3 separate regions of the Homo sapiens genome follow, and all the other regions are linked to region 2. Evidence: fine-mapped expression QTL. A gene starts in region 2. Each other region holds a variant in brackets. All regions are shown on one strand. Distances are from middle to middle. Region 1 overlaps EPHX2 (epoxide hydrolase 2). Region 2 holds the start of EPHX2 (epoxide hydrolase 2). Region 3 overlaps EPHX2 (epoxide hydrolase 2).

What was found.
Region 1: its variant is fine-mapped to the expression of EPHX2 in minor salivary gland (GTEx, PIP 0.98).
Region 3: its variant is fine-mapped to the expression of EPHX2 in esophagus mucosa (GTEx, PIP above 0.99). The same link has a PIP of 0.9 or more in hippocampus, iPS cells, ileum, liver, pancreas and sun-exposed skin.

Annotation. Positions count from the first base shown.
Region 1 is chr8:27,524,190-27,534,585 of GRCh38, reverse strand. It overlaps EPHX2 (epoxide hydrolase 2), which reads right to left. Exons shown (of 19, transcript NM_001979.6): 12 at 9,113-9,224. Among named protein-coding and RNA genes, the nearest start is that of EPHX2, 38 kb to the right of the region's middle. RefSeq lists a silencer at 6,608-6,808. The variant C/T (reference allele first, on the strand shown) is at 4,231.
Region 2 is chr8:27,486,390-27,496,785 of GRCh38, reverse strand. EPHX2 (epoxide hydrolase 2) reads right to left here and starts at 5,643. Exons shown (of 19, transcript NM_001979.6): 1 at 5,477-5,643. The coding sequence starts at 5,577. RefSeq lists a silencer at 5,560-5,839 and a cis regulatory region at 7,586-7,900.
Region 3 is chr8:27,539,715-27,550,110 of GRCh38, reverse strand. EPHX2 (epoxide hydrolase 2) reads right to left here. Exons shown (of 19, transcript NM_001979.6): 15 at 9,455-9,557; 16 at 8,569-8,638; 17 at 6,282-6,362; 18 at 5,867-5,925; 19 at 4,547-5,667. The coding sequence ends at 5,589. Among named protein-coding and RNA genes, the nearest start is that of EPHX2, 54 kb to the right of the region's middle. The variant A/G (reference allele first, on the strand shown) is at 5,496.

The sequences.
Region 1 (10,396 bases), 38 kb before region 2:
TGCCAAGATGGGTTCAAGAGATTCTCTTGCCTCAGCCTCCCAAGTAGCTGGGATTACAGGGGCCCACTATCACGCCCGGCTAATTTTTGGTATTTTTAGTAGAGACGGGGTTTCATCATGTTGGTCGGGCTAGTCTCGAGCTTCTGACCTGAAGTGATCCGCCTGCCTCGGCCTCCCAAAGTGCTGGGATTACAGGCATGAGCCACCATGCCCAGTGAGACGTTACTCTTTTTTGTTCTGCTCATCACTCCTCACGAGAGCTCTGGATCTGTGCAGTGGCAGCACAGAAGAATGGAGACATTGATCATCTGGCGGTGCTGGATCTAGGGTTGGAGATTTTCTGATGAAAGCTATGTCTGCCTGTTAATGACAGTTCCCTCCGTTTTGTAAGATTCAATTATAATGGTGCCAATGGCGGCCTTCCGCAACATGATGATGAATGCCACAGTGAGAAATAGCCATGGGAAGAAGCACATTTAGGTCATGGATGGAAGCCCTGGTCAGGTCTGTGTGTGTGGCTGTCGGTCATCATTCTTATTTACTGAGAGCAGTCCTCATCCCAGAAACAGCTGCTGTTCATGAGCTCAGGGGTGCATTTCAGTGTTTGAAGGAACCCATGGAAGCCTGGACAGGGCTTTGCCTCAAATGATCCTTTAAAGGGCAAACGATGTCAAAAAGTCAGTAAAGAAAATCAAAGAGTCTAGGTGTGGTGGCACAAGCCTGTAATCCCAGCACTTCGGGAGGTCCAGGCAGGAGGACTTTGAGGCCAGGAGTTCAAGACCAGCCTGAACAACAGTAGAGACCCTGACTCTACAAAAAATATTTTAAAAATCAGCTGGGCATGGTGGTGCATGCCTGTGGTCCCAGCTACTAGGGAGAATGAGGCAGGAGGACTGATTGAGCCCAGGAAGTCAAGAATGCAGTGAGTTATGATTGTGCCACTGCACTTCAACCTGGGCAACAGAGTGAGACCCTGTCTCTTAAAAAAAATCAGAGAGAAAAAAGGTAAATAAATCTGTTCACTCACATAAAAGTGCAGCAGAGCAACAGAAAGAATAGGATGAAGCTGGGAGCCAGAAAGGAGAGAAGATAACATTTGTCCTCTGCTTATGCACTTAGCTGAGATCTTCCGACTCTCTTTCATCTACAAAAGATAAGACTATATCTTTAAATCCTACAGACCAATGACAAATTTCCTGTCTGCCCTGGAGAGGGGCTCCTCCTTCTGTGTTCCTGCGCACAGAAGTTAAAGGATGGACTTTAGAATCCAATAAACACAGTTTCAAGCCCAAGTACTGACAGTTACCAGCTGGGGAACTTCTTTCCCTAGAGCCTCGGTTTCCTCATCTGTAAAATGGGGATTTTGTAAGGATTAAATGAGATAATGCCCATTTCTTACAATGCCTGACATGCAGGAGGCATGCCAATAAATATTAATATCATTATCTCCATTATTATTATTATTCGTTTAGAGACAGGGTCTTGCTCTGTTGCCCAGGCTGGAGTGCAGTAGTGCAATCATGGCTTACTACATCCTCAAACTCCTGGACTCAAGTGATGCTCTCGCTTCAGTCTTCTGAGGAGCTGGGATTACATGTGTGCACCACCATGCCTGGCTAACTTTTAAAACATTTTTGTAGAGACGGGGTCTGGCTATGTTGCCCAGGCTGGTCTCAAAGTCCTGGCCAAGTGATCCTCCCACTTGGCCTCCCAAAGTGCTGGAATTATAGGTGTGAGCCACTGCACCTGGCTGATTTTTTAAAATTTTAAATTAATATCTAATTAGGGTTCTTTAAATGATATCATCTTGGCTTTAGATTGGGCCCTAGATCTAATGACCTGTGTCCTTATGAGAGAAAGAGGGAAATTGAGACATACAGAGACACAGAAGGGAGGATGCCACATGAAGACGGAGGCAGGGACGGGCGTGATGTGTCTACAAGCTGAGGAACACCAGGAATTGCCAGCAACGGCCAGGGGCTGGGAGACAGGCATGAAATGGACTCTCTCTCGGGAGCCCCCAGAAGGGACCAACCCTGCCGAGACCCTGATTTTGAACATCTAGCCTCAAGAACTGTTGAGAATTCACTTTTGTGGTTCTAACTCACAGCTTGTGGTACTTTGTTATGGCAGCCCCGGGAGTGGGAACACAAAAGGAGAAGCCCCTATCCAGAGCAGGCAGGAAATTTGTCATTGGTCTGTAGGATTTAAAGATACGGTCTTACCTTTTGTAGATTAAAAAGAGTCAGAAGGTCTCAGCTAAGCACATAAGCAGAGGACAAATGTTATCTTCTGTTATTTTCCTCCCATTTCTGGCCCCCAGCTTACACTAAAGCATGTCTCCAGGGGGTATCTTGATGTGGGGGCTGAGGGGAGAGGGTGAGGAGGGAAAGGGGCCAGGGTCTTCATTACCCTGGGCTCAGGGGGCCCAGGCACCACCCCCAGGAGCAACAGGCAGCAGGTGTGCCAACCGCAGGGTGGGGGTCTGGAGGGTCCCAGGATCCAAGGTGCCCTGGACTTCCCTCATCCTCTCAATTTACTTCCCATGTGCGTATTCAGCACACTGTCAGAGGAGCCCCCAGAAATGCAGGGCACCACAAAAAGATGGAGTTTTGTCTAGACTTTCCACTCAGCGCTGGTAGGGGCGGCACTGTCAGTCACCTAATTTGCCAGGGAGGTGCCCCCACATTGGTGGAGGGCACAGGATTGCCTCCTGTGCTCAGCCCTCCTAACAGGGAGAGCTCCCCTCCACCATCCCAGGAGTTTCTCCTCTTTAATCTTCTCTTGTGTCCTTTCCAAGGTAGAGAACAGGTCTGCTGAGAGGCTGCACTTAACTGTGGCTATTGTTTTGTGGGTGAGACAATGGAGGCAGCTGTTGAAGCCAAATTGCAGGTCCACGAAGCCCCCACTCAGCCCTCCTGCCCTTTACAAGTAACGCCAAAGGATGCCATCCAGGAGTGGAGGTGAAGCCTCTGCTGGTCAGCGGGCTGGGCCAGTGACTCTGTTTCATGCTCCGTCTACCTTGACAAAAATGACTCCAATTCCTCTGGAAGTCTGCGCCAGTGTTCTCCAAGACAGGCCAAGAGAAACAGTGGGGTGGTTGTCCCTGAGGTCAAAAATGGCAGTGGCTGGAAGCATCCGAAATCTGGGCAGACAGCAAACTGTTGACCTTTGACTCTGCAGTGTGGCTGGTCAGATGAGAAAGAGGTGGACAGCAAAGACTTAGAAGGCTCTACAGGGACCCAGGGCACTGGGGGCCGCCTGCCACATGCTGATGGTGCCAGCTCTTTCTGTCCATAACAGCCCTGAGCTGTGAGGCCCATTTCACAGAGGAAGACGCTCAGGTCAGGGGCCTTAAGTGCCTCGTTGAAGGTCAGGCAGATTATAAATGAGAACATCAGACTCCAAACCCCTCCATATTTGGTTCTTTTCACCACAACCTAACACAACACTGCCAATTTAAGACAATGAAAATAACCCTGCCAAGGGTTTCCTCCATAAAGGGCATAAAAATTAAAGTAACAGCCGGGCGTGGTGGCTCATGCCTGTAATCCCAGCGCTTTGGGAGGCCGAGGCAGGTAAGTCACCTGAGGGTGGGAGTTCGAGACCAGCCTGACCAACATGGAGAAACCCCATCTCTACTAAAAATGCAAAATTAGCCGTGCGTGGTGGTGCATGCCTGTAATCCCAGCTACTTGGGAGGCTGAGGCAGGAGAATCACTTGAACCCGGGAGATGGAGGTTGTGGTGAGCTGAGATCATGCCATTGCACTCCAGCCTGGGGAACAAGAGCGAAACTCCATCTCAAAAAAAAAAAAAAAAAAGAAAAAAATTAAAGTAACAATAGTTAAAGCTTGGTGCATAAGGTAGCAAACAGTGGCACTTTCTTTTAAACTATATTATTCGGCTGTGAAAAATAATCAAAATAATGTCCCTCCACAGAGGATTACATAATCCATAGTCTACCTGTTACAAAACCCCATGCAGCCATTAAAAAGAATGAGATAAATCTATATGTGCTGACAAAAAAATCTGTGCAATATGTATTAAATGAAAAAGCAGCATGATTCCATTTATATGAAAAATTATATATGTGTGTGTGCTCATACACACATATATTTGCTTAAAAACATTCAAAAATAGTTTTTAAATATTTCAAAAAATGTCTGGGAAATACCAGACTATTAGTAGTAGCTATTAGTAGCTCGTTGATGGGCAAAGGGCGATTCAG[C/T]TTTTTACTTTACACAACACAGGACTTTTTTAAATAGCAAGGATGAATTACTTCATAATTTCAAAACAAAAACAAAACCTAAAAAATAAACTCTGTAACTAATCACCAGCTGTCCCCATGGCCTGAAGGAGCTACTGTGTTCTAGAGATTAAGAAAGATTCAACATTTAGGCTGGCATGGCAGCTCTCACACCTGTAATCCCAGCAGTTTGGGAGGCTGAGGTGGGAGGATCACTTGACGCCAGGACTTAGAGACCAGCCTGGGCAACACAGCAGAAAAAAAAAAAAAGAGAGAGAGACTCAATGTTTTGAGGAGAAAGAAAATCATTTGTGGATGATTTTCAGCCAGGTAAAACCTTCTGCCTACAATTTTTCTTTTCCCACATTTTCTCTCTGATCCTTAGTTTCTCTTCTGGTTAAATACTTAAATAAAAGGGCTCTTTTTTCTTTTTCTTTTTTTTTTTTTTGCTCAGGCTGGAGTGCAGTACTGCGATGTCAGCTCACTGCAACCTCCATCTCCCAGGTTCAAGAGATTCTCCTGCCTCAGCCTCCCGAGCAGCTGGGATTACAGGCATGCACCACCACACCCAGCTCTTTTGTATTTTTAGTAGAGACGAGGTTTCACCATGTTGGCCAGGCTGGTGTCAAACTCCTGACCTCAGGTGATCCACCTGTCTGCTGAGATTATAGATGTGAGTCACCACGCCCAGCCCAAAAGAGCATTTTTTTTTGCCTGAAATCTGCCTCTAGCTTGCTATATGTTTCCAGACACACACACAGGTGCCTGCCACCCAGTCTTCCTCAAAGAAATAAAAATACACATGTGCGGTTTAAGGACAAGTAAAGAGGACCAGTGTCGTGAGGTGGGAGAGAGCAGGGTTCACAGGATATCCTAGGTACGTTCTGGTATGGGGGGCATAATGGGGTGTGAGTATCCCCCAGGCCAAGTGAGGACTTTGGGAATCCTCAGAATTAAAACATGGAACAGCTAAGCTGAAATGACCCAGCCGATTCCACTGGCCTTCGCTGCCAGAGCTGCCTAGTCTTCATGCTTTCTCACTATACACATGGAAAGCTGTCACCTCTTCTCTGAGAAGGCAAGAAAAGCAAGCCTTGTTTGTTTCCAGCAGACTTGGCAGATTCCCAGGCCAAGATTCAGCACGTTGGCTAAGGGTTCAAAGAGCTATATGGGAGCTGACTCTAAACTTGGAGTTAGTCTAAGCCTCACCCTGCAGTGCTCAGCAGAGATGACCCAGAAGTGGGAGAGATGGGGCTGGGCGCAGTGGCTCACCCAGCATTTTGGGAAGCCGAGGAGGATGGATCACCTGAGGTCAGGAGTTCAAGACCAGCCTGGCCAACATGGTGAAACCCTGTCTCTATTAAAAATGCAAAAATTAGCCAGGCATGGTGGTGGGTGCCTGTAATCCCAGCTACTCGGGAGGCTGAGGCAGGAGAATCGCTTGAACCTGGGAGCTGGAGGTTGTAGTGAGCCGAGATTGTGCCACTGCACTCCAGCCTGGGCGACACAGTGAGACTCTGTCTCAAATAATAATAATAATAAAAAAATAAGTGGGGGAGACGGGTGCACCCACAGCACAGAAGGAGTCTTCCTTAGGCTGCATGGGTCTGGAACAGCCTCAGTGCTCCTAGGGAGAAGGAGGAGATGTCAGAAATGCCTCCTCCTGGCCAGGGAGGGAGCGGGTTAGGAGGTGGCAGGAAGGAGGAACTCCCAGCACCCACTATACATCCAAGAGCTGTTCTCCATGTTATTGGCTTTATTTGCTGACCTGGAATCAGCTTAAGTTTGAAGCTATTACCTGTTTGAAAACCACCCAAAACCAACCTTTTGCAGATGAGGAAACTGAGGGCCAGGGATGGGAAGTGCCTTTGCCTACTTGTTCCTTAGAGAGTAGGTATCAGGCAGGCTGGCAGGAACCCCTGTGAGTGATTTCTCCTCCAGTCCCAGCTCTGTACCTATTGAGTGGTTCCAGTGGCTGGATGCAGCCCAACCTGGTTACTGGGTATCTTTCAGTGGCCAGATCACTAATTTGAATATCTAACATTTCCCTGCCAAGGCGCTTTGTTCTTAAGAACAAAACTGTCCCCAAAACTCTCACTGCAGATTTTAAACCCAGCTGCTACAACAGAATAGAGGTACTGATTTTTCCACAATAACTGTTAACAACCTTTGAAACAAAAAACTGTGCCTTGACAAGGGCTGTAATTACTAAGCGTCTTTCTCCTAAGGTCACTTTTGCAATCAGGATTTTGAGCCTATCCTGATTTGTCCCTCCTCTCTCTGCTTGACTCCCCATAGCGCACAGAACAAAGCCCAAGCTCCCCTCCAGCATGGCTTAGTTGGAGGCATGGGCTTTGGAGTCAAACAGGCCTAGGTCGATATCCTGACCCAATCATGTACCTGGTCTTGGGCCAGTTGGGGTTAAGCCCTCTGAGCCTCGGTTTGCTCAGCTGAGAAGATAGGAGAGAATTCTTCGTGTTGCTGTGAAGATTAGAACCACGTGGCACATAAGAGCTCAAAAACAGCTGTAGCTGTAACCCATTGACAGATGACCAGATTAAGAGAATGTGGTCTATACACACCATGGAATACTATTCAGCCTTAAAAAGGAAGGCAGTTCTGGCCCCTGCTACAACATGGGTGAACCTTGAAAGCATGATGCTAAGTGGAAGAAACTAGTCACACAAGGACAAATACTGCATGCTTCCACTTATATGAGGTTCCTAGAGGAGTCAAAATCATACAGACAGAAAGTAGAATGGTGGCTGCCAGGGCTGGGAGGAGGGGAGATGAGGAGTTAGTGTTTAATGGGCGAAGGGCTTCAGTTGGGAAGATGAAAAAGTTCTGGAGGTGGATGTGGTGATGGCTGCACAACAATGTACATGTGGTTAATGCCACAGAACTGCACACTTACAAATAGGTGACATGGTCAATTTTACATTACATGTGTTTTACCACAATTAAAAATATTTTAGGCCATGTGCAGTAGCTCACACCTATAATCCCAGCACTTTGGGAGGCCGAGGCATGTGGATCACCTGAGCCCAGGAGTTTGAAACCAGCCTGGTTAACATGGTGAAACCCCGTCTCTATATATTCACACCTGTAATCCCAGCACTTTGGGAGGCCGAGGCGGGCAGATCATGAGGTCAGGAGTTCGAGACCAGTCTGGCCAATATGGTGAAACCCCGTCTCTACTAAAAATACAAACAAACAAAAAAATCAAAAAACTAGCCGGGAGTGGTGGCATGCACCTTAGACCCAGCTACTCAGGAGGCTGAGGCAGGAGAATTGCTTGAACCTTAGGAGGCGGAGGTTGCAGTGAGCCGAGATTGCGCCACTGTACTCCAGCCTGGGCAACAGAGGGCGACTCCGCCTCAAATAAAATAAAATAAAAATAAAAAATACACACACAAAAAGTGAGCCAGGTGTGGGGGCACACACCCGTAGTCTCAGCTACTCAGGAGGCTGATATGGGAGGATCATCTGGGCCTGGAGAGGTCGGGGCTGCAGTGAGCTATGATCACACCACTGCACTCCAGCCTGAGTGACAGAGTGAGATCCTGTCTCAAAAAAAATTTTTTTTAATGGGCTAAATACCATATGAGGAAACAAGGAGAAGAGGACTACCCACAAGCCAAGGAGAGAGGCCTCAAGAGAAACCAACTCTACAAATACCCTGATCTTGAACTTCCAGCTTCTAAAACTATAAGACTGTGAATTTCTGTTGTTGAAGCTGCCCAGTCTGTTGAGCTACCTAGCCTTTGTTATGGCAGCCCCAGCAAAGTAATACGCCCTCTACACCACACACCACACCCATAGTCTCACCATCGAGACTATCTCACACTAATGAAGGACATTGTGCTTTCATTCAGGCCAAAGGAAGCTCGTGGATTCCCACACACCAGGCTGTGGCACAGCAGGGCCCAGGCCTCCCTGTAGTATGTGGGATGCGACATGTCGAGGTCTCTTCAAAATGCCGCTGGGAGCTTTTGGTGAATGAGTCCAGTTATTGCCTGAATCGCAAAGCTCCTTTCACACAGATGCTGTCTCATCAATGAAAATAATTGTTGGAGAACAGTTACTCGTTGAATCGAAACTGGGATGGTTGTGGTCTTGCTGGAAACGGTCCCTCCTAAGAGGAGCAGAGGTGGAGGCTGGGAGAGGAACGTGGGAGACGCTCTCACATTCCTGATTAATTAATTCCTTCCATTCCTCTCTCTCTGGAGTGTGCAGGAAACATCTTTTATTCTCTCTGGATAATTCCTGCAAGTGGATGCATAGCAGATGTCTCCCACAGAAGAGGGCAGCTGTAGGCGGGGCACCAGGCCAGGTGACGTTGACTCCTGATGCTGCTCTCAGTGAATTCCAGTTAACAGTGGCAGGGATGCCCCAATATATGTATCAGCCACATCTGGGGGCATCTTTGAAAGGCATCTTTGTGGCACGTGTACTGATACCTAGAAACTTCTCAGATTCTTCAGAGCACATGTGGGGCCTGTTGCAGGACTCTTAGACCCTGGTGCCATAATCACCAGCCTTTCAGCCAGAGAATGAGGAGGGGCAGCTCTACCTGAGCATTGAGCCCCAAAACTCTGCAATTGCAGAGACACCAGAGAAGCCATCCCCCCAGGGTACAACATCCCCCGGCCCTTCACCACCCGAACACACACGGAAATGTGCCATTGCCTGGGAAGGATCAGCTGGGCATGGCAGCCAGTTTCACCTGAGCCCATTTGTAAAATCATTTCTGACTAATGCCACATAAAATTAAAGGGGACAGTGATAAAGCAAATAAGAAGGAGACAGGAAGGGGAAAGGCAAACACTAATGCTCCCATTGTTGCCCTTGGTGCCATACTTACTGGTTCTTGGAAGTAGAGCTGGTAATCAAATACTGGGTTGGCTTTGATACTCTCCAAAGGGGACATGTTGGGATTTGCTGGTATGAAGGGAGTATTCAAACTGGCCACCGCCCTACAGAAATAAGAGGCAGCAAGACATAGCCCCTGTAAGAAGACAGTCTTACAAGAGCCAGAAAGGACTTTGCAGTTCAAAACTGAAGCTCAGAGTGGGAACATTCTATGCACAAGGTCATACACTAGCAGTGAATGGGAGAATGGGATCAGAACTCAGGATTTTCGATTCCTAGTCCATTGGTTTTTTTCCTACTAAACTGCAGTATTTCTCACCAACTTGCCTTAGACACATAGGTGCGCGCGCGCGCGCGCACACACACACACACACACACACACACACACACACACACAGTACACATACTGTAGCAACCCTGGATAGAATATGGAGACACGAATCTCTCTCTAGTTTTAAAATATACATTCATTTTTTTTCCCTCCCTTTATTCACTCATTGTGTCTCCTCTGGATTGAGCATAATTCTATGGCATATACTAGAGGAGAGAAAATGTAAAATGAATAAAATATCGTTTTTATCCTCAAGGAGCTCATTATAATTTAATAAGGAAAAATAGAAAAACACACAGTGACCTTATGAGATGACTATGATATGAGCCATAGAATAGCACAAAATAGCATAGGAGTTGGAAGGAGATAAGGAATTCCTGAACTGGGCATCATGGAGGACCCTGTGGAAAAGGGAGCATTTGAACTTGGCTTTTCAGAATGGGGAGAGCTGGGGAGGAGAACAAGGCCTGGGAGGGGAACAACATAAGGTAGCCTGAGCAAATTCTAGAAGGGGGCAAAGCTTGCAGCTGTATTCAATGGAGCACACAGTCTGCGTGGCTAGAAGCCAAGCATGGAATGGAATATGTTGGGAAATAACAACAGAAAGGCAGTGGGGAGCCTAGACATGAAGGGACCTGAGTCTGAATTTGGTGCTGTAAGAACCAAGAAAACCATGAGGGCGTCTCAGAAGAAGGGAGGGTGGATCCGAGTTGCAGTCAGGATGATTAATCCAGCCCTGAGAGACCACATGGACACAGAGAGAGAGGTCAGGAAGATTAATCAAGCACTGAGAGACCATATGGAAGCAGACAGAGAGGCCAGAACCTGGGAATCCAGCCAGTAGACCACTGACTTATCACCTGAAGAGGGAATAGGATGCTAGCAAAAGGAATAGAAAAGACGGACAAGCATAGTGGCTCATGCCTGTAATCTCAGCACTTTGGG
Region 2 (10,396 bases):
AAATCAGGTTAAAGACCCCACCACTTTTCCTTATCAAAGGCAATATCCCTTAAGGCCTGAAGCTCATAAAGGATTACATGATATTTTTAGACATTTAAAAGTTCAAGGCTTAGTAAGAAAATGCAGCAGTCCCTGCAACACCCCAATTCCAGGAGTACAAAAACCGAACGTTCAGTGGAGACTAGTACAAGATTTTAGACTCATCAGTGAGGCAGTAATTCCTCTATATCCAGCTATACCCAACCCCTATACCCTGCTCTCTCAAATACCAGAGGAAGCAGAATGGTTCATTGTTCTGGACCTCAAGGATGCCTTCCTCTGCATTCTCCTGCACTCTGACTCCAAGGTTCTCTTTGCCTTTGAGGATCCCACAGACCACACGTCCCAACTTTCGTGGATGGTCTTGCCTCAAGGGTTTAGGGATAGCCTTCATCTGTTTGGTCAGGCACTGGCCCAAGATCTAGGCCACTTCTCAAGTACAGGCACTCTGGTCCTTCAGTATGTGGATGATTTACTTATGGTTACCAGTTCAAAAGCCTCATGCCAGCAGGCTACTCTAGCTCTCTTGAACTTTCTAGCTAATCAAGGGTACATGGCATCTAAACTGAAGGCCCAGCTCTGCCTACAAGTCAAATATCTAGGCCTAATCTTAGCCAGAGGAACCAGGGCTCTAAGCAAAGAATGAATACAGCCTATACTGGCTTGTCCTTGCCCTAAGACATTAAAACAGTTGTGGGGGTTCCTTGGGATCACCAGCTTTTGCCGACTATGGATCCCCAGATACAGCGAGATGGCCAGGCCACTCTATGCTCTAATCAAGGAGACCCAGAGGGCAAACACTAATCTAGTAGAATGGGAACCAGAGGCAGAAACAGCCTCCAAAACCTTAAAGCAGGCCCTAGTACAAGCTCCAGCTTTAAGCCTTCCCAAAGGACAAGACTTCTCTTTATACATCACAGAGAGAGCAGGAATAGCTCTTGGAGTCCTTACTCAGACTCGTGGGACAACCCCACAACCAGTGGCATACCTAAGTAAGGAAACTGATGTAGTGGCAAAAGGCTGGCCTTACTGTTTATGGGTAGTTGCAGCAGTGGCCATCTTAGTATCGGAGGCTATCAAAATAATACAAAGAAAGGATCTCACTGTCTGGACTACTAATGATGTAAATGGCATACTAGGTGCCAAAGGAAATTTATGGCTGTCAGACAACTGCCTGCTTAGATACCAGGCGCTTGTGTGTGGCCCTGAACCCTGCCACTTTTCTCTCAGAGGATGGGGAACCAATCGAGCATGAATGCCAACAAATTGTAGCCCAGACTTATGCTGCCCGAGATGATCTCTTAGAAGTCCCCTTAGCTAATCCTGACCTTAACCTATATACCAATGGAAGTTCATTTGTGGAGAATGGGATATGAAGGGCAGGTTATACCATAGTTAGTGATGTAACAGTACTTGAAAGTAAGCCTCTTTCCCCAGGGACCTGCACCCAGTTAGCAGAACTAGTGGTGCTTACCTGAGCCTTAGAACTGGGAAAGAAAAAAAAATAAATGTGTATACAGATAACAAGTATGCTTATCTAATCCTACATGCCCAATGCTGCAATATGGAAAGGGGGTTCCTAACCTCCAGGGGAACCCCCATTAAATACCACAAGGAAATCATGGAGTTATTGCACGCAGTGCAAAAACCCAAAGAGGTGGCAGTCTTACACTGCCAAAGCCATCAAAAGGTGAAGGAGAAAAGGCAGAAGAAAACCATTAGGCAGACACTGAGGCCAAAATTGCTGCCAGGTGGAACCTCCCATTAGAAATACCTACGGAAGGACCCTTGGTATGGAACAACCCTCTCCAAGAGATTAAGCCCCAGTATTCCCCAACCGAAACAGAATGAGGACTTTCATGGGGGCATAGTTTTCTCCCCTCCAGGTGGTTAACAACAGAAGAGGGAAAGGTACTCATGCCCGAAGCCAGCCAGTGGAAAATACTTAAGACCCTCCACCAAACTTTTCATATGGGTATTGAGAACACTCATCAAATGGCCAAATCCCTATTTACAGGGCCAAATCTCCTTCAGACCATCCAACAAGTAGTCAAAGCCTGTGAGGTGTGCCAAAGGAATAATCCCTTGGTCCATCATAAGGCCCCTCTGGGGGAACAAAGAATAGGGCACTATCTAGGAGAAGACTGGCAGTTAGACTTCGCCCATATGCCTAAGTCAAGGGGATTTCAATACTTGTTGGTCTGTGTTGATACCTTTGCAAATTGGATGAAGCCTTGTCCTGCAAGACAGAGAAGGCTCAAGAAGTGGTTAAAGTCCTAATTCATGAAGTAATTCCTAGATTTGGGCTTCCCCAAAGCTTACAAAGTGACAATGGTCTGGCTTTTAAAGCCATGGTAACTCAGGGAGTTTCCAGGGCACTAGAGATACAATATCACCTTCACTGTGCCTGGAGGCCACAATCCTCAGGAAAAGCCCATACAAGACCTTGTGACCACGAATACCGAATACCATCTTAACTTTCCAAGCCCTTTTATGCATCCAACACAACCTGTTATCAGGCCTGCCCCTGGGGCACCTACTATCCCATCAGTGTAATTACACCCTATAACTTCAAGCCCCAACTGATCATAGTAACTCCTGAGTCACCCAAACACCTCCATTCAGATGGCTTGTCTGCTTCTCAGGGCCCCCCAAAATCATCACCTCCTCCCTGTTTAACAAACAGTCTGGGTTTTGTAATGGCAAACATACTCCCTGCATGACCATTCACCCCTGGACCCCCTGCAGCAGCGCCCCCACCACTAGTGTATGTCTTCTTATCCCCTCTTTCAATTACTCTCTTGGATGGTTCCTAGTAGATACAAAACGGTTTTTTCTCCAATGGGAAAATAGAGCACAGGGAGCCACTCAGTCTGCTCCCAACACCCTTTCCAGCTGCTCACCAGAGCTACCTTGGCAAGTACTCTAGGAGTGTGGGAAAATGAAAACAAACTCACACACCTTTTTAACATACACAACCAGTTTATTCTACCCAGCCAAGGCATATTCTTCTTATGTGGAACTTCAACCTATATCTGCCTCCCACCAGCTGGACAGGCACCTGCACCTTCTCCTAAGTCCCAACACTAACAATGCCACAGGAAATCAGACCCTATCAGTGCCCCTCAAAGCTCAAGTCTGTCAGCCCAGGACCATACAACTAATACCCCTACTTATAGGGCTAGGAATGCCCACTGCTACAGGAACCAGAATAGCCAGTTTAACTACTTCATTATCCTACTACCATACACTCTCAAAGGATTTCTCAGACAGTTTGCAATAAATAAATCTATCCTTACTCTACAATCCCAAATAGACTATTTGGCAACAGTGACTCTCCAAAACCGCTAAGGTCTAGACCTCCTCACTGCTGAGAAAGGAGGACTTTGCACCTTCTTAGGGGAGGAGTGTTGTTTTTAAACTAACCAGTCAGGGATAGTACAGGATGCTGCCTGGCATTTACAGGAAAAGGCTTCTGAAACCAGACAACACCTTTCAAATTCTTATACCAACCTCTGGAGTTGGGTGACTTGGCTTCTCCCCTTTCTAGGTCCCGTGACAGCCATCTTGCTATTACTCACCTTCAGTCCCTGTATTTTTAACCTCCTCCTCAAATTTGTTTCCTCCAGGATCAAGGCCATCAAGCTACAGATGGTCTTACAAATGGAACCCCAAATGAGCTTAACTCACAACTTCTACCGAGGACTGCTAGACTGACCCACTGGCCCTTTGACTGGCCTAGAGAGTTCCCCTCTGGAGGACACTACAACGGCAGGGCCCCTTCTTTGCCCCTATCCAGCAGGAAGTAGCTAGAGTGGTCATCACCCAGTTCCCAGTAGCAGGTGGGGTGTCCTGTTATGAGGGAGGATTGAGAGGTGAGGCCAGCTGGACTTCCTAGGTCGAGTGGGGACTTGGGGAACTTTCCTGTCTTACAAGAGAATTGTAAAATGCACCAATCAGCGCTCTGTAAAACGCACAATCAGCAGCATTCTAAAAGTAGCCAATCACGGGGAGGATTGAAAAAAGGGCACTCTGATAGGACAGAAATGGAACATGGGAGAGGACAATAAGGGAATAAAAGCTGGCCACCCCAGCCAGTAGCGGCAACCTGCTGGGGTCCCCTTCCATGCTGTGGAAGCTTTGTGCTTTCGCTGTTCACGATAAACCTTGCTATCACTCACTCTTTGGGTCTGCGCCATCTTTACGAGTGTAACACTCACTGCGAAGGTCCACAGCTCCATTCTTGAAGTCAGCAAGACCACGAACCCACCGACAGGAACCAACTCTGGACACAACTATAGCCTCCAACTCCTGGGCTCAGGCAATCCTTCTGCCTTAGCCTCCCAAGTAGCTGGGGCTACATGCATGCACTAATGTCTAGCTAATTTTATTTTTATTTTTGGAGAGACAGGGTCTTGCTCTTTCACCCAGGCTGGTCTTGAACTCTCAGCCTCAAGTGATCCTCCCACCTTAGCTTCCCAAAGCACAGAGATTACATGCCTTTCCCTCAAGCTACTTGCCATCTCATCTTCCTTACTATATTAAAAGCAAAGGCTCCGGACATGGACTACTGGGGTTGGATTTCTGGCTCTGCTCTTTAACAGCTATGTGATTTGGACAGCTGGTTTCTTTCTGTGCCTCAGTTTCCTCATATGTAAAAGGAGGATATGAACAATGGCTTCCATGCCTGGCCTTCTTTTTCACTTTATAAATAAGTATACTTCTCTCCTTTCTGAATGTGGGAATAATACATTGTTTATAAATTTAGAAGTTGGAAACTACAAAAAAAAAAAACACAAAAAAAAGAGAGAGAGAAAGAAAATCATTACATTATTCCTAATCTCATTTGATGTACTTTGGCCTATTTCTTTCAGGCACTTTTCTGCATGTACCTTTTTTCCATAGCTGAAACCATATTGTATAAATAGCTTCAGATTCTGGTGGGGTGGTTTTTTCATGTAGTAGAACAGGTGTTTTCCCAAGTCCCTGAGCTCTCACTCTGCACACCCCATCTACCATTTCCCAGTGATGTGGCTTTGGGCGGTTGCTGCAGTTTGCTATTACACAAGTAAGCATGCAACCCACACCTGGGGAGAGAACTTTCTTCTCTCCTGAATCTCGGCTCGCATCTTTAAGCGCCACCCCATTAGACAGGAGGCAGCAGAAGCACAAAGCTCCATGAGTAACTCCTCTCCCTTTTGGAAAAGTTCACAGAAAGCAATTTTGGAGACCTTGGCAACGTTTAATTATGAACATTTAGAAAGACAACGGATCTCCTCATATGCACTGGGACTTCAGGGCCAGGTCTTCAGTTTCATGATTCGCATGATTCGCAGGGCTCCGGCACAGGAGCAATCTGAAAGCTGGGCTGCAAGCCCAGCGCGGTCTGCCTCCTGAGGCCCCGACCCACTGCGGCGGCGGCGCTGGGCCCCCTTACCTGGGCAGCGCCAGGGCCTCCTCCGTGCGGCCGAGGACGCCGAACACCGCTGGCAGCGCCAGCACCCCGTCAAGGTCGAAGACGGCCGCGCGCAGCGTCATGGCGGCGGGTCTGCAGCCTAGCACCCGGACACGCAGCTAACCTGGGAGATGCGCGAAGGCCAGGGCGCATGACCCGCCCAGCTTGGCCCGGCTCTGCCCCGCCCCTGCCCTGGCCCCGCCTCCTCCCCACACCCCCTTAACGGGACTCCGCCCTCTGCCCGGGTTAAGGCTGGACTCTGGCCGGGAAAGAGGCAGGGGGAGGGGCACAGGAAAGGGAGTCAGAGGGAGAGGAAGAGGAGGCCGGGAAGGCGGGGACCCCAGGCTAGAATCTCGCCTCTGGATGTAACGCTTTCTACTGTCTCAAAGGAAAGTCCAAAGTCTCTTATGCCCCCTCCCCACGCCCCTGCAGTAGCTGCTTGAAGAGGCAAACCCAGGCCCGGGCCTTCCTGGACGGACTGACAGCTCCCTGCGAACTTGCTGGACTTGGAATGCCTGGGAAAGAGGCCACAGACTCTGTGTGTGTGTGTGTGTGTGTGTGTGTGTGTGTGTGTGTGTGTGTGTGTGTGTGTCAGCACATCCAGTGACTTCTACATTCAGAACATAAGACCGTGTTGGGGGGCGGGGGAGGGGCATATCCAGTGACTTTTCTAGATTCAGAACGAAGGATCACAGATCCCTCACTATCCTGACCACTCCTCTAGGCACGCTCTTCTTTGCCAAGGCAAATGTGTTTCTAGAATAAAATATGATGTTCCAGCTATCGTGTGCCAGCCCAGAATACTTCGATTTCAATCTCTTGTGGAATGAAGCTTAGAAGAACTAAATGTAGGCTATTATTTTCCTTTTGTACATGCTACTTGTAATAATTCTGTCTTAAAATGTGCGAGGTTTGTTTTTAATCACCGATTTCCACACTATTGGCTCGTTTATGTTCCTAGAAAAACTAAAACTTTGGCTGGGAGTTCTTGAGCTGTTGTAGTGCAGCTCCATGAATTAAAAACCGTGTCTTTGGTGGAGACCAAACAGAGTGAGTGAGGTCTCCAACAGTGGAGAATTTACTCTTGAATGTGTCTCTGTGGATTTATCCAAGATACCCTCCACCACGGAGCTTCAAGAACCTTGTGAGGGGTTGTCAGATACCTCACTGTAACTGGGAGGTCTACAACAGTCTCTGGATCTAGCAATCAACAACAGGATTGACCAGAGCCGTGGGTTTCCTCTGGGCTGTTTGCCCTTAGCAAGCTATGCTGTTGCTTCCTTCTCTAGCTTGGTAACCTCTTCCAGGCTCCTGCCTGGAGCAGTTATTAGTGTTTTCTGAGATTCTTGCCAAAGAAGCAGAGAGTGGCCAACACTGCCAAATGTTACAGGAAGAACTGAAAAAAAAGCTGTCCAATTTTGGACTTGGATGACACCGGATGTTTCAGAACACTTTTTGTGGGCCCTTTATGGTAGAAACTGGATTACTCTGGATTTGAAGACTGAAAGATAGGCAGAGAAGGGAGTACAGCAAGCTAGTTTCTCATGAAGTTAGTTGATCTCAAAGGTATAATTGAATTTTAAAAAATAGAAAGAAAATTGCAGCCTGACCTATATAGTATGAAACCTGTTAAATCTCCAGATTGGGCATGGTGGCACACACCTGTAATCCCAGCACTTTGGGGCTGAGGTGGGAGAATTGCTTGAGGCCAGGAGTTTGAGACAAGCCTGGGCAACAAAGCAAGACATTCTCTCTATAAAAAATAAAAATAAAATATTAGCTAGGCATGGTGGTGCATGCCAGTAGTCTCTGCTATTCAGGAGGCTGAGGTGGGACGATCACTTTAGCCCAGGAAGTGGAGGCTGCAGTGAGCCATGATTGTGCCACTGCACTCCATCCAGCCTGGGTGACACAGCAAGACTCTACCTCCAAAAAAAAAAAAGAAAGAAATTAAATCTCCAACTTAGAGTTTCCTTTGGGCTCCAGACTTGCCAACTTCTTACTCAACATCTTACTCAACGTCAATATCCAACTTCTTACTGAACATCTTCTCTTGAGTGTCTAACAGGCATCTCAAATTTATCATGGCTAAAACAGAACTCTCTCTGCATTTCTACTTCCCACGCCTGTTCCTCCTAGTGTGTTCCCTATCTTACAAACTGGCATCCCCATTGACTCAGTGGCTCAGTCCCGAGACCACGGAGTTGCTTCCAGATCCTTGGCTCCCAGCCAAACCATATGTTCGTGTTTCTAGCGGTGGCCTGCTGATTGAGGCAGAGATAGCAGCTTCTAGTTCTATGGTGGTGTTTTCTGGGAGTCCTTCCTAAAGGCTCAGTCTGGAGCTCACTCCTCCATTCCGTTCAAAGATTGTGTAGGCTTGCAGTCTCTCATCTTAAATCCCTTTCTTCTGTTTCTATTTAAAATAACTACAGTGATTTCTGTTGCCTGCATCTGAATTCTGCATCTAGCACAGTATTGCTTATGAATACGTAAGTATATTTATACAAGCAGTAAAGTGTAGAGGAACGACATACCTACAGAACTAGATTTCATAAAGCCCCCTTTTGAGAAGAAAAATTTAAAAACATAGAAATATGAGTTTTACTTTCCTCTTTGGTTAAGAGAAAGCCATGAAGCTATCACATGGACTTTTATTTATTCAGGAGCAGTTAACTTGTAAATAGCTCTGGTGTGGAATATTTTTATAATGCCTTGTGAGTTACAGAGCTTTCTGGCTGAATTGCTTAGGCAAAGATTAAAGGTCTCAATTGCATTTCACTGCACTTTGCCCTTTTTCATGGTCGTGCTTCTCCTGTGTTTTCTGCTACTAAGGTACAGAGAGATAAGGGCTTACCCAGCAGGGCTATGGGAACTGGGTGGCTTTTTGAAATGTAAATCCTAACCCCTATGTCTTCTAATTTTAATATTTATGAAATATGTTTTAGGTGATAGCATGAATCATAAAAGATGGCTAATGTAGTAGTGAAAATTTATAAATTACACCTGATTTCAATCACTAAATTCATAATGAATGTACACTGACCTCATTAAGGTTTATTTTGGGTTTTCTGCCATTCCTGTGCCTTCTGCAACTTCCTGCTAGTCCTTGATTGTCAAACCCTATTTTATAAAATCTGTTTAACCACTAGGGGTTGGGAGGGAGGACTTTACACTGCTGCTTCTCTCTACTGTAGATACTCATGGAGTTCAAAGTAAAGCTACCTCTGGCAGTTTTCTAAACCTACAAACCACTTGAAGTTTTGTCTTTTTTTCAATGCGGCAAATGAACGAGCGTCTTTCATTCCATCAGCAAATATGTATCAAGCATCTTCTATGTGCCAGGCACTGTTCTAGGCACTTGGGATCAATTGTTAAATAAATCAGACAAATATAGGGGCCGTCAAGGATCTTCCATTTTAGTGGAATAATGAATTCAAATGGTAGTGGCTGGTGGCTTCTGGAGCAGTGAGAAGAATGAGATTGGGAATAGTGGTGGTGGCTACTTGCCGTTTTTCTTATTTGTCATTTTCCAGCTTCCTAACATCTATAACCTTTTCTTACATACAGAAAATTCCAGCCGGGCATGGTGGCTCACACCTGTAATCACAGCACTTTGGGAGGCTGAGGTGGGTGGATCACCTGAGGTTAAGAGTTGGAGACCAGCCTGGCCAACATGGGGAAACCCCGTCTCTATTAAAAATACGAAACTTATCTGGGCGTGGTGGCACACACCTGTAATCCCAGCTACTTGGGAAGCTGAAGCAGGAGAATTGCTTGAACCCGGGAGGCAGAGGTTGCAGTAAGCCAAGATCATGCCACTGCACTCGCAGCCTGGGCAACAGAGCAAGACTCTGTCAAAAGAAAGAAAAGAAAAGAGAAGAGAAGAGAAGAGAAAAGAGAAGAGAAGAGAAGAGAAGAGAAGAGAAGAGAAGAGTAGAGTAGAGAAGAAGAGAAAATTCCATCTGGCAGTGATGAAGTTCTGCTTCAGAGATACACAACATCCTTTCAACATCTTCTATTTTGATAGTTCTCACTGTTTGAGAACTACTACTGTTTTGAGTTCTACCTTCTCACAGTAGAATCCACAAACAACATGTTGCCCAGGCTTCCTTAATGCTGGCCAGGTGCACGGGCTCTGCCAATTGGGCATACTCGCCAGGGATTTGGGAATGGGGATGGGCAGCCCAAAGCCACAGCTGTGTGAGCGGGAACTTTCTTTCAGCGAAGGCAGAAGCAGCAGCATCTAGTTTTTCTGGGGAGGCTGTGATGGAGCTTCTCTGGTCTGGTCCTGAGTGTACTTGGTGCCCACGCTGGGGCAGAGTGGTGGCTTTGTTAAAATTGCACCAAGGGGTGGCCTGCGGTCACTGTGCTGTTCTTGGCTATATAGTTTCCAAAGCTGCATCTCTTGTCCTCCCTGAGATTCTGTGTGTTAATGTCCTATAATAAGAACCTTTCTGCTTATATGACCGAGAGGAAGCTCTGTAGTTTGTAATAAAAACCCTATAACGCATACCGGCCTTATGAATGTTGATAGAAGGAAGAACCGCATTGACTGCAGAATTTGGAAATGCCCTGTGCCCACTCCCCAGCCTGCCTGGAAGTGAGAGTGAAGGCCTGTGAGCTCCATTCAGCAACTCAGGTGCACCAACCCAGCCCTTACAGTGGGAGCAGGTGAAGGAAACAGGCCAGAGGAGAAGGGTGTCGGTCGGCAGTTTCAAGGGCAGCAGCAGCAGCGGCCAGGGTCCCTGGCTGGCAGGGACGGTGCAGGCCCCGAGGCCCTCAGCGCCCAACTGCAGCAGTGGTGTCTTCACAAGTCCAGTTCTGTGCTATGAGTTTGGCAATGACCTTGCTCTTGTTTTCCAGGCTTAGTTCTCCAAGCTCCCAAGGGCCCTCACTGATATC
Region 3 (10,396 bases), 53 kb before region 2:
TATACCATCTCACACCAGTTAGAATGGCAATCATTAAAAAGTCAGGAAACAACAGGTGCTGGAGAGGATGTGGAGAAATAGGAACACTTTTACACTGTTGGTGGGACTGTAAACTAGTTCAACCATTGTGGAAGTCAATGTGGCGATTCCTCAGGGATCTAGAACTAGAAATACCATTTGACCCAGCCATCCCATTACTGGGTATATACCCAAAGGACTATAAATCATGCTGCTATAAAGACACATGCACACGTATGTTTATTGCGGCATTATTCACAATAGCAAAGACTTGGAACCAACCCAAATGTCCAACAATGATAGACTGGATTAAGAAAATGTGGCACACAGACACCATGGAATACTATGCAGCCATCAAAAATGATAAGTTCATGTCCTTTGTAGGGACATGGATGAAATTGGAAATCATTATTCTCAGTAAACTATCGCAAGAACAAAAAACCAAACACCGCATATTCTCACTCATAGGTGGGAATTGAACAATGAGAACACATGGACACAGGAAGGGGAACATCACACTCTGGGGACTATTGTGGGTGGGGGGAGAGGGGAGGAATAGCATTGGGAGATATACCTAATGCTAGATGACGAGTTAGTGGGTGCAGCACACCAGCATGGCACATGTATACATACATATGTAACTAACCTGCACATTGTGCACATGTACCCTAAAACTTAAAGTATAATAATAATAAATAAATTTAAAAAAAGGAAAGATATTCAACATCACTAATCATTAGGGAAATTCAAATAAAACCATCATGGGACATCACATGGCCATTCTATATATTAAAAAAACAGAAAATGGAAACCAGCTATGGAAAACCATCTGGTGGTTCTTCAAAATATTAAACATAGAAATTACAATATAATCTAGCCATTCCATTTTTTGATATATACCCAAAAGGACTGAATTCAGAGCCCTAAAGAGATATGTGTACACTGATGCTCAGAGCATTATTCATAATAGCCAAAATATGGAAGCCATCCAAGTGCCCATTGCTGAATGAGTAGGTAAACAAAACGTGGTCTATACATACAATGGAATATTATTTGGCCTTAAAAAGAAAGAAAATTCCAACACATGCGACAACATGAATGAACCTCGAGGACATTAGGCTATTTATTTATTTATAGAGATGGAATTTCCCTCTTGTCGCCCAGGCTGGAGTGCAATGGCATGATCTTGGTTCACTGCAACCTCCGCCTCTGGGTTCAAGCGATTCTTCTGCCTCAGCCTCCCAAGTAGCAGAGATTACAGGTGCCCACCACCACACCTAGCTAATTTTGTATTTGTAGTAGAGATGGGGTTTTGCCATATTAGCTGGGCTGGTCTTGAACCCCTGACCTCAGGTGATCCGCCCGCCTCGGCCTCCCAAATTGCTGGGATTACAGATGTGAGCCACCATGCCCGATCAAATTTTAATTATTTTAACTTGAAACTAATGCATTTGTCCATTCATCCATTTGTGCATATACTCTCCAATTTATTCAGCAAACGTCTAATGAGCATTTTACATATGCCAGGCCAGTGCTGGGTTGGGTTTCAGGACGAATTACTTAGACAGGCAGCCCCCGATCTCAGGGCCCTCACAGTCTAACAGGGAGACAGACAGTTACACATTTGGGTGCAGGAGTTGACACTTTACAATTGCTCAGGCAAGAAAGTATTTTATCATTTGTGGCCAGATGGAGTCCTTTGAACAGTGAGGCATAATATTTGTCACCCAATTCCTGTTGGAAAAAAACCCTTTGAGCCTCTGACCTAGATATTTTAACCATTGTTTGCTTTTAATTTGTATTGATGGTAATGTGGCTGTGAACGACACGGAAACTGGTGGACAGTCATGTCAAGGTCTAAAACCGTGGGTTCCCTATACCCCAAGACAGACAGAAATAGCTTTTTGTCCTGTCTAGTCTAATAGACTCACTTTTTAGAAGACGGGTCTCCTGGAAACCTTGGATGTTGCTAATTGACAGCCACTAAGTGGTCCTTCCTTGACAGAATATGTGAGTGATCTCAGCCTCCTCCCGGGAGCAGCACAACCCACTGCTGGAGGGTGTGAGAGAGAATATGAAGACTGCTGGACCTCTTTTTTAAGGGCCGATTTCTTTTAGCAGAGGGGAATATACTTGTAATCTATTCCCTTTGTAATCATGAAATAAAAATAACATATTTTTACTATTCAGCCACAAAAAAAGAATGAAATCTTGTCTCTCGCAGCAACGCGGATGGAAATGGAGAGCATTCTGTTAAGTGAAATAAGCCAGAAACAGAAAGTGAAACACCACATGTTCTCACTCACATGCAGAAGCTAAAAAAAAATTCATTTCCTAGAAGTAAAAAGTAGAATGGAGGATAGGAGGCTGGGAAGGGTTGGGGAAGAGGTGGGGGATAGGGAGGGATTTAAGGAATGTCAAATTCCAGCTAGATGGGAGGAGTAAGTTCTAGCGTTGTATAGCACTGAGCAATGACTACAGTCAACAATGATACATTGTTTTAAATAGCCAGAAGGAGGTTATTAAATGTCCTCAATACAAAAACGATAAATGTTTGAGATGACATGTGTAATTACCCTGATCTGATTGCTACACATTATATGTATCAAAACATCACTATGTACCCCATGAATATGTACTAGTATGTTAATTACAAATTAAATTCAATCCCAAAATATAGCATTTTATAATTAAATCATTTTGAACACACTCCTTGCCATTTGTACTTAAAATGGCATCTGAAAATCTTCCCTGATTGTTCCAGGGAATGCCCTGATACCACCACTGCAACAGTTGACGTGTGGCCCAAAGGTCCTCAAAGCAGACCAGGAAACATAGCCCTGGACATTCCACTATCTTCTTGAAAAACCTAAAGACCTCTTCCAGTCCACTGTCCTTTATGGCCCTTGATACGGTTTGGATTTCTGTCCCCACCCAAATCTCACGTCAAATTGTAATCCACGATGTTGGAAGTGGGGCCTGGTGGGCAGTGACTGGATCTTGGGGGCGGATTTCCCCCTTGCTGTTCTCGTGATGGTGAGTTCCCATGAGATCTGGTTGTTTATAAAAGTGTGTAGCACCTCCCCCTTCTCTTTCTCTCTCCCTCCTGTTCTAGACACGTAGGATGTGCCTGCTTCCCCTTCACCGTCTGCCATGATTGTAAGTTTTCTGGAGCCTCCCCAGCCATGCTTTCTGTAAAGCCTGCAGAACCGTGAGCCAATTAAACCTCTTTTCTTTATAAAGTAGCCAGTCTCCAGTAGTTCGTTATGGCAATGGGAGAACAGACCGATACAGCCCTCAATCTTGTATAACCAGTTATATTTTCTGGCAATGCTATGGAATGGAGTTATTCAACTCTTACTTGCCAAAGGAGCAGAATTTCTGAGGCCTTTTTGATGGCTGATGGAGATGACTGGATAGAATATTAAAAGCGAGACTTTCGGGAAGACAGGTTTGCTGTTTGTGCTCCTTCCAGTAAAGGACGCTTTTAGGTTTTGATTATTTCCTTTCCCCCAACTGCTCCCTTACAAATGAGCTTGAATACACCCAGTTAGGAAAATAATGTGATCTGGTGTAAGCCTTTCCCCCAGTCCTCATGATTGCCTTTAAATTAGCCCTTTAATTCTCAGATGCAAAAGATTGAGATGGTGGTGGCATGGCTGGAAATGGAAAGCCCTTAGAGGTCTTGTCCTAAGACAAACTGGAAATCTTATAGCTGATACTTCCATAGCACTTCCTCCATGCCAAGCACTGTTCTAGAACTCTGTGCATATTATTAACATACTTGATACAACCACCCATGAGTTAGGTCCTACTAACGTCCCCTTTTTTATAGATGAGGGAACTGGGGCACAGATATCCTTTTTCAAGGTCACAAGGCGAGTATGCAGCTGACCGGAGGCCTAACCTAGGTGGTCTGGCTCCAGATTTAGAAAGGAGAACTTCTCTTTTTTTTTTTTTTTTTGAGTCGGAGTCTCAATCTGTTGCCCAGGCTGGAGTGCAGTGGCGCGACGAGAACATTTTTTTGTAGAAAAAGCTCAGCCTTAGGAGCCAGAAAGCCTGCTTCTGAATCCAGGCTCTGCCCCCATCTAGCCAAGCAGTCCTGGGCAAATTATCTGAACCTCAGTTTCCCTCTCGGTTAAATGGGAAGGACTCTCTGGAAGGATCAGAGGTGGTGCATGGAAGACTCCAGGTGCACTAGGGCAGTGAAGAAATGCCAGCAGCCTCCATTTCAAACCTCTCCTGGCTTTCTCCCTATACACAGATACTCAGGCTCTTGTGACCTGGCCAACTCATGCCCGTCATCATGCCAAACTCAGCTTGGAGGGACCACTTTCTCTCGCAAGCAGCGAGGCCATTGTGCGTGCATCTGTGAGCCCGATAACCATGCAAGGGGGGCAGGCAGAAAGGGCTCGGAACCCAGCCTATGGGCTTGGAGGAGGTGGCAGGAGGAATATTCCAGGCAAAGAATGGGTAAGTTAGGCAGAGGGTCAAGGAGGATCAGCACCTGCAAGTGTGCTGCTGGAGGGCGGTTAGGAATTGGAGGGTGATGGGGCCGGGCTGGGGGTGGGCAGGGGCAGTTGGGGGAGGCCCTGCGAGTTTCAGGATCCAACCATGTGGGCGGCAAGACCCGTGAGGAGGCTGCTGCTCCAGGACTCTGGGGCTGGAAGCAGGGCAGGGGAGAGACCACTGCAGGAGACACATCAGTGAGATGGGAGCCTAACCGGATGTGACAGGAGGCAGGAGAGGGTAGAGGGGAAGATAGGGAGGAGGGGGCAGAGGGGAAGATGAGCTGGATCTGCCTGAGCCTCATGGCAGCTGCTGCTATTTAACTTTAAACTGATTACAATTCAATGAAATTTAAAATTCTCTTCCTCAGCCTCACTAGCACATTTCAAATGCTCCAGGTGCACATTTGTGCCTGAGCAAACTCTGCTAGGGAAGCCGGGAGAAAGGCAGGTGGCTACCTGTGGCCAGTGACTGCTCTAGGGGACAGAGCACAAGACACCACTGCCATCCCCATAGGATTGTCTCCTGGCCAGCACGGCCTAGATCATACAGCACCTTGGAGCCCAGAACAGGGCTCAAAAGCAGAGGGAAAGGGTTCATCCCCATGCCGTGCATTCTCCGTGAACAGTCACTCCACCTCTCCAAGAACAAAGACAGCCAGCAGCATAGTCATCTTAGCTTTATTGAGTAAGGCATCCCAATCTCTGCTAAGATTCTTCTAAATGAACGGCTGATTTTTCTGCCAAACTATGCATTGGTCAAAGAGAAATCACCACCTGGCCACCCCATTCTGTCCCCCTACAGGACACTAAGGGTTCTTACAGATAAAGGGACGATGCATTCATGCCTGGAGAACTAATCACACCTGATTTCTCTGGGATCTAAAATAATGTCAAATTTGATTCACTTTATGTAAAGAAAATCTTTTTTTTCTGCAAACCCCTTCAGAACAATGCTGCCATCCATGC[A/G]AGATGTGTGTAAGGCCACCTCTGTATACTAAGAATGGTGCCCCAGCAGGTGGAAGGATGGCACACCTGCTGAGCGTGGGCACACGCTGCGTTCTACATCTTTGAGACCACCGGTGGGTTCCGGGCATCAGAATCCAGCCACTTAATGAGGATCTGATTCACCTCGGTTGGCCTGGGGGAAAGGGAGAAGTAAAAGAAAAAAATAGCCATTCACACTTGTCTGCACCTACCCAGCCAACTCGAAGGCAGAGGTGAGTGACATGAGTGGCTAAGCCAGGCCAAAGCCAGCACAATGAAACCAGGAAAGCTTTTATGGAAGGTGAACGGGGGGCCCTGCTCTCCCCGACCCCAGGAGCCCCCAACCTCCTTACTTGTCCATCTGTGTCCAGTGCCCACAGTCCTCAATGTGTCCCCTTTTCAGGTGGGGAATCTGAAAGGAAACCCCAGGCAGAAAGGTAAATGGAAGAAGGCAGATGGGTGTGTCTCTAGCTAGTGCAATGGGCAATGGACGCCTTCTCTCTGCTCCCCGCAGGCCACCCTGCCCAAACCCTGCATGATTTAGGAAGGGAATAATGAATGAATGAGACCCCACATCCATGCAGGGGAAAGGAAGGTACAGTCACGGTTGCTGCTTGCAATGGGGGGACAGTGATGTTACTGATGATGTGCTTCAACCATGGTCCTATCCACATGACAAGGTGTATCTTCTGCTGCCGTCTTCCCTCTGAGCACCCGTGCCCTCTCCCGGGGTGCACTGATGACCCTTGTACAGGGCCATTCCCTCACCCAGTCCTCCATGTGCTGGGACATCTGAGGAACGAGCACGAAGTCCTTCTCCGCCGTGACCATCAGGGCCGGAATCAGGATCTGGGGGGAGAACAGGAAACAGAAGTGGCCAGCACTCCACAAAGGAAGCCCTCCCTCCTCCTCTGAAAGACCCCTGCTCGCCACCCTGCTGTGGTCCTGACGTTGTATCTGCCGAACTTTGCACAACAGACTCGTGGTTATTACTGGAGATCTTTAAAATAACAGCTTCAGCAGTGCAGAGGCCAATATGGGTCTTATGTGTGCAGATGTGTGTGAGTGAGAACGTGTGCTGAGCTGCATGTAACTGGGAGAACCGAATTGATGGCACCAAGAAGGCAGAAGACACCCTTGAATGAAGATCAAGATTCCTCTTCCCTGAATTAAATAGATGCTTAAAAGGGGCGACCAAGGTTCCAGAGAAAATGGGGGCAGCCACAGTAGTAATCAATGTGACATGAATGGCAGCAAAGTAACTTCCAATTGCTGGCAAATGAGTTGAACACAGGGAGGCATGCACAGGAAGGCCAGGAAAGCCTCTGTGTTTTTTCCTTTGTTCTCGCTCCACCATTACCCTAATTTCCAAGCAGCTTTGACCCATCCCTGGTTGAGGAACGTGCACTATTTTCATTTACACCCAGAGTGATGGGCATCTCTCCACACCCCTCCCTCCTCCCACAACCAGGAGCCAGGAGAAGGTCAAAAATGATTTTGTGGCTAAAACGAATCCTGAGGCTTCTATGAGGTTTGTAAACTCTAGAAAGTTCCAAGCTAAAATGTGAACTGGGCGGGGGGCGGGGGGGGGAGAGGATGGGATGGGAGGAGGTGGGGGAGGAGAGAGGAAGATCCAGCTGGAAACTGCAGAAGAGAGGCTGGGTGCAGTGGCTCACGCCTGTCATCCCAGCACTTTGGGAGGCCGAGGTGGGTGGATCGCCTGAGCTCAGGAGTTTGAGACCACCCTGCGCAACATGGTGAAGCCCCATCTCTACTAAAACACAAAAAATTCGCTGGGTGTGGTGGCGCACTCCTGTAATTCCAGCTGCTTGGGAGGCTGAGGCAGGAGAATTGCTTGAACCCAGGGGGCAGAGGTTGCAGTGAACCGAGATCGTGCCATTGCATTCTAGCCTGGGCAACTGAGCAAGACTGTCTCAAAAAATAAACTGCAGAAGAGGAGGGTTTCTGACCTTAGCACCATTGGGATTCACCTTCCCAGCGCCTTTGTCAATATTTTCCTCCACGCTTTGAGAGATTTTGTCTGTCCAACTGCAGTTTGGTCATTTTCATCGGTCATATGATGATAATGACAAGGAACACTAATGGAGCTAATAGGTTCCCAGTACTGCTTGTAACAGGTCACATGCCTTCAACCATTTCATCCTTACACAGCTCTGTGAGGGAGGCACTGTTCTTGCCACTTGCATATTGCAGAAGAAGCCACAGTGGATCAGAGGGGTTAAGTACCTTTCCCAGGGTCACACAGGGATTAGACTCAGCCCATGTGCTTCCTAGCCTGCTCTTAACCACGATGTTATATACTCTAGTGCCTCAAGACTTAATTTTGGGAGGTCAAGACCTGGTCTGTTTACACACCATGGTATCCCAGGGTCTGGCAGGAAGTCTGGCATGTAGCAGTGTGTTCACTTACAGAGTGAACCAACAAGGTAACCATGGCTACTGAGTGAGCTGATGAAGGCCTAGCTACCTGTGCAGTCACACTGGGGAACAGATTTCCCTTAGATTTTTAAACATTTTGAATGTAAACTGGGAACCTCCATTACTCCTTCTGCAGACCCAGAGATTGGAAACTCATCTTCTGCTTGACAAATGAGGAAACTGAGACTCAGAGATTGACTTGTGCAAGGTGACACAACCGAAGGCTAAAGTCACATCTCTGAGAGCACCTAACGCTCCTCTGGGCTGGGGGCTCCAGTATCCATGTCACTTCTGGGAGGTGCCCCAGGCCATCTGCAGCCCTGCCTTGGGGTACCACCAGGGGACCTGGGGATTCCGGATGGATGCTGCAGTTCCCTGGACACACCCCAGCTCCATCCCCAAGGTCACCCTCTACCATCCCAAGAGAAGCACCAGCAAGAAAGATCCTAGGGAAACCCCTGAAGGGAGTCACTTCCCAAACCCCAAAGGGAAAGGAGGTGGCCAGCAGATCTGTCCACAACCAGCTCTGGCCCAGGTCATATCAGCTCAGGCCAATGGGAAGCCCCGCGGGCGGGTCCTGGGGTGTGGATGAGACTACACTGAACCTGGCACTCACCTTCCGTCCCAAGCTTTTGCAAGCCCACTTCCAGTTCCTTTCCATGTTTCGGTACCAGTTTAGAGGACCTCTGGGGAGAGATCAGAAAGTAAAAAGAGGGAGGCAGTAAGTAGACGGCTCTGCTACAGACACCAGCAGAAACCTGCTCTGCACAGCCAGTCGTCCTGGGAAGAGCAAAGCCTCCTGCAGGGGCAAGAGAATAGAGCCCAGGACCCACGCCTTGCTGTCGGGCGCAGTTGCCAAGCTCTAGCAGCAAGGCCTTGTGCAAGGACACAGGACTCCACTGAGTGAACTGGCAGCCTCTAGGTTGGCTTTTGGGACACAAAGAAGCCGGCCCTACAGGACCCTCCAGGGAATGTCATCGTGTCACCTTGGAGGCTGGGGAGGTTGCTGATGGTGGGGAACTTGGTTTAGCAGCCTCACCATCCAGAGGCCACTCGCCTGCCCCAGGGAGCCCACTTGAGAGGGACATTGGGAGGTGGAGCAAAGATGCCCCCTCCTAATATGACATCAGGAAGTAGGGCAAATGCACCAAAATGTATGCACTTTTTGAGTTTATGTGGATTTTTATGTTTTTCTGAAGAAAGAGCCCAGAGTTGCCATCTGATTCTCTGAGGAGCCATGACTAAAAAGTAGTGAAAACCCTCTGCCCTATGGGGGCCCCATAAGCATAAGGAAGAACAAGCTGAGCTATCCCAAACTAGAGCAGGCTGAGCACCATAAAGTAGTGAGCCTCCCGACACTGGAGGCATTGAAGCAGAGGCTGGCCTGGCACTAACGAGGGCTGTGGTGGAGGAGAACTGGGCCTCACCCTCCACCCTGAGGGCTGAAGATCCCTATCTGTCGATCATCTCTCATCTGTGTCTGGGCCCTGTGCTCTCTTTACCTGAAACCAGACTTCTTGAACTGCTGCACATAGAACTGGATTTCCTCCTCAGTGACCATCCTGCTGAGGCTGGGCTCTTCTGGGCTATTTACAAAAAGTCCTCCTGCAAAAAAAGCCACTTGTTGACTTTCCCATCCCCGGGCCAGGTGTCTGCATTTTAAGGTGGGGACCTCATTGCCTCTCGCAGACCATCTGAACTTGCGCAAGGCCTTATGAGTGCCTCCATCTTTTGTTCCCTTATCCTTTGCCAGAGTGATCCCATCTCCTCGAAAGCTCAAAGCTGTGATCTCACGGTCACACTGGAGCCTGATGTTCCCTCCCACCTAGCCACGACTTCACGGGCTATTATCACAGCTCCTGGACCAACCACAGTTGCCGGCTTTTTCAGGCACACAGCAGCTATATCCCAGACCCTGCCAGCCCCCAGCTCCTGCTCTCCCCTCGTCTAAACCTTTCCCAGCCAGCTTAACTGTGGCCCTTTGGAGATATCGCCAGAGATTCTTGGAATTTTCATAAGGATTTGCTCCGTTTTTCCTCTAAGGCAGGAAGAGAACCCAGGCCAGGTGGCTGCATCCTGTCACCTCCCACGTGCCGCACAGACCCTCTGTGGTATCCCACTGTGGACCCCTCTCTTGTCTTCAGGGTGCTGCACAGTCCCTCCAGAGGATGGCCTGTGATGACCCCTGGCAGCCCAGGGACCACTGCAATTTCACAGGGCACAGCCTCAATGCTGGTGCCTGAACAGGGCCCGTCGGCATTTTCAGATTCACGAAGACCCGGAGGCACAGGAACTGGTCATTCCAGGCTTTTGTGAGACACATCAAAGGGGTATGTGATGAGGATGTCACCCTGTGATGAAGCCACCCTGAGCCTCCCCACCAGGCGGGTGCTCCAGACTCACTGTACCTCAGGGCCCCTCTGCGAGCATCCCAGCTGCTCTGC